Linked DNA regions of Homo sapiens: region 2 is linked to region 1. A link means that fine-mapping ties the variant in region 1 to the expression of a gene that starts in the linked region. Tissue or cell type: whole blood. Region 1 holds a variant in brackets; the other region holds the start of a gene. All regions are shown on one strand. Distances are from middle to middle.

The links. PIP is the estimated chance that this variant, and not a neighbour inherited with it, causes the effect.
Region 2: it holds the start of SOBP, and the variant in region 1 is fine-mapped to the expression of SOBP in whole blood (TOPMed, PIP above 0.99).

What each region holds. Positions count from the first base shown.
Region 1 is chr6:107,670,744-107,673,425 of GRCh38, reverse strand. No RefSeq gene overlaps it. Among named protein-coding and RNA genes, the nearest start is that of SCML4, 150 kb to the left of the region's middle. RefSeq lists enhancers at 1-97, 2,496-2,555. The variant C/T (reference allele first, on the strand shown) is at 1,439.
Region 2 is chr6:107,488,879-107,491,560 of GRCh38, reverse strand. It overlaps SOBP (sine oculis binding protein homolog), which reads right to left and starts at 1,444. Exons shown (of 7, transcript NM_018013.4): 1 at 849-1,444. The coding sequence starts at 944. RefSeq lists silencers at 1,065-1,124, 1,165-1,214.

The DNA of each region.
Region 1 (2,682 bases):
TCCCCCTCGGGCTGGGACTGTGAGGCATCTGATGCCCCGCCCCTGGGGTGAGGCCAGCATCTGTAAGAGGAGAGGGACGCATTAAGGATTAGCCTGCGGTTTTCATTTGATCCAAAAATGGATCCAAAGCTCTGGTAATCTCATCCTCTCCTTCCAAAGAAGTAAGAGGTCAGGTCCTCAAACAGGGAATACCCAAGGGGCCCCGCCCCATGTCCACCACAGTGCGCGCCTGTGGGAGGCTGCAGGAGCGATGGGTCAGGCAGCTTCCGCAAAAGCAGGCCTAAGTTCTGTGTCAGCAAATTATGTTTTTAGTAAAAAGCGTTTACTATTTAATCAGGTTTTCTCCTTCTTATTTCTCTTTCTTCTTCTCCCCTTGTTTCCTTTCCATTTTCTTGACAGTCTGATATTTAAAACTATTTTCTATAGTATTTGGAAACTGCACCCCGAAATATCTTTAGTTACCTAGTACATGGGATCTAATTCTTGTTCTTAAATTTACCCCATCCCTCAGCATGAGTTCGGCCCATGCCTTCTTACCCAAATAGCCATCGTCCTGGCCTCCTCAGTCTAGTGGCCTTGGGTATACACTGAGAAGAGTAAAGCCAGGCTAAGCACCATCCCATTGATCTTCTGCTAGTGACACGCTGGAGGTTGCTTCTATCAGCTCACAAGAGCTGATTCTAAATTTTCAGAAATTTTCTGAGAAGCTGTTAAGTATAGACATTATTAAAAGTTAAATTATACACACTTAAATAAGTTATATTAAAAGAAAAGGTAATAAATGCTAAGAACATATCGTTTCCATTATTTTACTACATTATATTATCATCTATTCTCTTGAGGTTATTTACATCTATTATATCTGCATAGTAGAAAATTATATAAGAATGTGTGGCTACACATGTCTTTCTAATTGAGTTCTGTGACATCACAGTGTTAGCTTGAAATCTGTCATGGTGAGAATATTTACACCATGGATGTAAATTGGCAAGTGCTGGGAATCAGGTCTTGATTTATTGTTTTGTTGCTTGTCTAGACTTAAAGTGATGGGGAATGTTCATAATGAAGATTAAACTCAAAAGAGTGCCACGTCTGTGTCTGTGGCTGTTACATTGTGAATAACATGAAAATTTGAGGAAATATTCTCCCAGTATTTGATTTAGAAAAGAAGTCACTCATGTCGTTGATGAATGAGTGAGGTTTCAACCTATGTCTTCGTGGTTTCACTTTTGTCTAATACATTAACATACAAGAAAATATCATTCAACATTTATATCAGAACTACACTCATTCAGCAATTGCAACCAGGTAGTTACAAGAATTCAACAAAAATCAACAAGACCATGCTGTGAGAATCTATTGGTTCTATGGAATTTATAACAAAGAGTGTTATATATTTTATCGTTATTATAAATTGCATGTTCCACATCTTTCATAA[C/T]AGCAAAATGTATAATAAACTTACGTACTTATGGATAATCACGCTTTTTCCCCTCAGAGAGCCCACAGTTAAACACGTTCCAGCACACCATTAATCCACCGAGCTCTGTGTCTGTGGAACACAACTCACACCCCACATCAAGGCAGCAAACACTTTAATCGGTTCTAATTCCAAAGTAACTGCTGAAAGAAGCATTCGGAGAGTTCATGAAGACCCGGGTTCCCATCTTGATCCTGCTACTCACGAGCTAACTGCCACTAGACAAGTCACTCCGCCTTTCTCTATACCTCACTTCCCACATGTGCAAAAATGAGGGCATTGAACAATACGAACAATCCTGTCCTTTCCAGCTCTCAAATGTCATGGCTTATGCACATGTGAGAAAGGGACGGCTCCGAAGTTGCAGGAATTCAAACCAACCTAAAGGCTTCCAAATGTCATCTCTGAGGTCATGTTCTTTACTCACTGTACCTTCAGATGACATGAAAATCAGGCAGCTAGAAGGGCGAAGAGAAGCCTTCTTTTGAGCCCTGTCCATTTGAGATGACATAGCCATGGGCATGGGAAGGGAGTGAGAAAGATGGACTAAATTTGCTCCGTAAGCAGGGCCCTGCCGTCCTCGCTTCCTCAGCTCCTGCCCCTCTTCCTCTGGACTCAGGCTTTTCTGCTCCATGGAGCCTCTTGGGCACTGAGTTCTCCCCACACAGCAGAAACGAGCCCAGCACAGAGAGCTCCCTAACCTGAGGGATGGCCTACAAGAGATTAATAGCGAACTTGTAGGAAGGAAGGATGCGAAAGCTCACACAGGTCTTTCGTAGCCTTCACAACGTTGGGCAGGAAATGGTTAATCAGGGCCGGCCCTGAGCCTGGACGGCTGCAGGCAGGGAAGGGGCAGCGATTAATTACACTACACAGGAAGTGCAGGCCTCCATCCCTCTGCCCAACGGGGAAATCCATTTTCAATTCTGACCTCAATGTGGAAGTGACTCTTCCTGCCAAAAGGAGAGGAGTACAAGCGTCCCCTCCCCCACAGCACAGCAGAACCAGAAGACAGAACACAGGCAGATGCAGCACCAGGGGTAGGCAAAGCCCAGGCAACGTGCACAGCAGGCAGCTTGATGGAGAAAGTTTTCCTTAGTGGCACCTGATGAGACAACTCTTCCTGTACATGCACTGAAACAGGGAATAGGTACAAAAAAAAAAAACAAAAACCCAAGAAAATGCTACTTGGTATGGAACAGGAA
Region 2 (2,682 bases), 180 kb after region 1:
GCTGAGCGGTGCTCTTGTGCAATTGCTCTAACGCGAACAGCTGGAGCGCCAGGCTGCTGCGCTCTCCACCTCTGGTGCACCGCTGGCCTGGCGGGGAGCCCAGCCTCGCCGAGAGGACTCCGGGCCGGCCTTAGCGAACAATGGACAGGCGCCCTGCAAAGGCCGCCCCTCAGACAGCTGTCCTCCAGCGGGGCTGGCCGGGGTCTGCTTGGCTGGGAAGTGAGGCAGGCAGAGGCGAGCGGGAGGCGGAGGCTGCCAGTGGTGAGGTGCGGGCGGGGGCGGGCGAGGAGAGCGGTCAGGACCGTGCCCAGACCCGCGCCTCTCGGGCCGCAGCTCGCCGGGCACTGACGGGCTCTTCACGCCGTCGCAGCTGGTTGGTTGGGGGGAAGCGGGATTGAGGAGCAGGAGGGTGAGCTGGGGGAGAGGGGTGGAATAGAGCTCTCTCCGGGGTGCCCCGGCCAGGAGGCTCCTAACTTTGGAGGGACCCTGAGGATGATTCTCAAAAAGGGGGGAGAAACTGCACCGTCCACTGGGAAAGCCTCTTCCCCTGCCCAACGCCGCTCGAGTCCCCGGTGCCCTCGCCCTGAAACGCGTCCGTGCCAACCTGGGATTCGTAAGGTTAAATAGTATGTGGTCCCCCCTCATCAAATCTGAGGTTGGCAACAATTTCGGGGATGCAGCCCTCGAGTTGGCCTCTGCTTTACACCTGGAGGAGGAGCGGAGCCGTTCTGGGCATCCTACAGAAACTGACAAGCGCGCCCCGGTACCCCCCAGATCCATACCACGGCCCACGGGGAGCGGGCGCAAGAAAGAGCTCAGTCTCCCTGGCCCCCGAGATCAAAAAATACCTTCATCTCCTCATTGATCTCCCTTTTCACTGGGTGAGCCGGCTTCCTGCTCCGTTTATTTTCGGGAGGTCTCCCTTCTTTCTCCATTTCTGCCATGTTTTTGTGTCTGGTTTCTGTGGAGATGAAATGGCTGCTGCCGCCGCCGGCGGTGGTGGTGGCGGCGGCGGCGGCGGTGGAGGTGGTGCTGATGGTGGCGAGGCTGGCGGAGGTAGCGGTGCTGGCGGGGCCGGACCGAGCCGCGAGGGGGAGGGCAGGCGCCGAGAAGCGGGGTCTCTTCTAGCGGCGGAGGACGTCAGTGGCTGTCACGGGTAAGGATAGTGCGGAGAGTCTCGGGGATGCCGCCGCCGTCGCTCCGGCTCCTGCTGCCGCCGCCGCCGCCGCCGCAGCCAACGCCGCCGCTGCTGCCGCTGCCCCTGCCGCCCTCGCTGCCGCTGCCGCTCCCGCCGCCGCCGCCGCCGGGCCGCATCCTCGGGGCCCCGTGGAGTCGTCAGCCATCTTCCGTCGCTCGGTCCGTCCGCATGGGCGCGGGGAGCAAGGGCCGGCGCGGAGAGCGGCCCCGGGCGTGCGTGCGCGGCTGTGTGTGAGCCCGGGAGAGCGCGCCAGCCCCGGCGCCCAGCGCCTCCCGCGAGCCGAGCCGGGGGCGGGCCGGGGGCCGGCGCGGGAGGAGGGGAGGGAGCGCGGCCGGGAGGGGGTCGGAGGGAGGGGAAAGGTGGGGGGGGCGAGGACAGCCCCCCGGCTCTCGAGCGGGCGTGGCTTCCACCGTCACTGGATACGCGGATGCTGCGCGGCTCCGGGGGCTGCTCGCAGCCGCCTGTTCATCCGCGGCGGGCACGGGCGGCTCGCGGCGCCCCCCGCGGCCGCCACCTCCCCGCCACACGCCAGGGGCGCCGGCGCCCGCTCGGAACCCAGCCCTGCTTCTCAGCTCCGCGAGGTGGGCTGGGTTGCGTGTGGAGTTGGTTTTTGAGCCCGTCCTAGGAGCCGCTGAGGAAAAATGAATGGGGGTGAAAGGAGAAGGTTGGGCGGCGGGAGGTCGCGAGACCTGAGGTCGCCTGGCTAGAGGGCCGCCGTCCCCCGGGGAGGGTTGACTGAGCCTGCCGCCTCGGGGGTGCAACGCTGGGGTCTCGGGGAAAGGAAACCACAGCCCGGACGAGCTTCCCCCCACTGAGCTGCCAGAATAGTTTCCCCCTCCGGGGGCCACCGCAGAGTGCGCGGAGGCTGGAGACCCCTTGGAGAGGTCCCCGCGCCCCGCCCGGCCGGTCCTCCACGCGGCGCTGCCTCGGACTGCAATGGCAATGAAGCTTTTGCCTCTCAAAGAACTACTTAGAAGTAGGACATCTCGGCCTTCAGCCCCTTCATTTCTTTTTCCCCTTGTTCCTTCTCTCTTTATCTCTCTCTCACTTATGCCCTGCTTCAAAGTAACAGCTTTACGCGTGACCCCGCCTGCACCCTTATCTGGGTGTCCTGGGTTTCGCCCAAAAGGTTGGGCTGAGTGGGAGCTTCTGGGAGCGCACGGTCCCGCGTAGGGTCCCGCTCACCCGGACCCCGAACGCCCTCGCCACGCCCCGGTGGGATCCTCCCCTCCCCGCCTGGTTGCACTTTCTCCTCCCGACTTCCCAGCTAGCGCCTGCCCTCCATGGAGCGGTGCTCGCTCCCTCTGCGCTCACAAGTCCCCTCTTTGGCCCTCTCCTGCCACGCCTGGGGCCGAGGTCTGATTGAGTCTGTCCCTGTCCCTGGGTTGAGGCATTGGGGGTGACGACTGGATGATGTTTCTGTGATACGCGCGGCTCTGAGCGCTCCCACACGTTGCAGAGGACACATTGACGTTCCCGGCTTC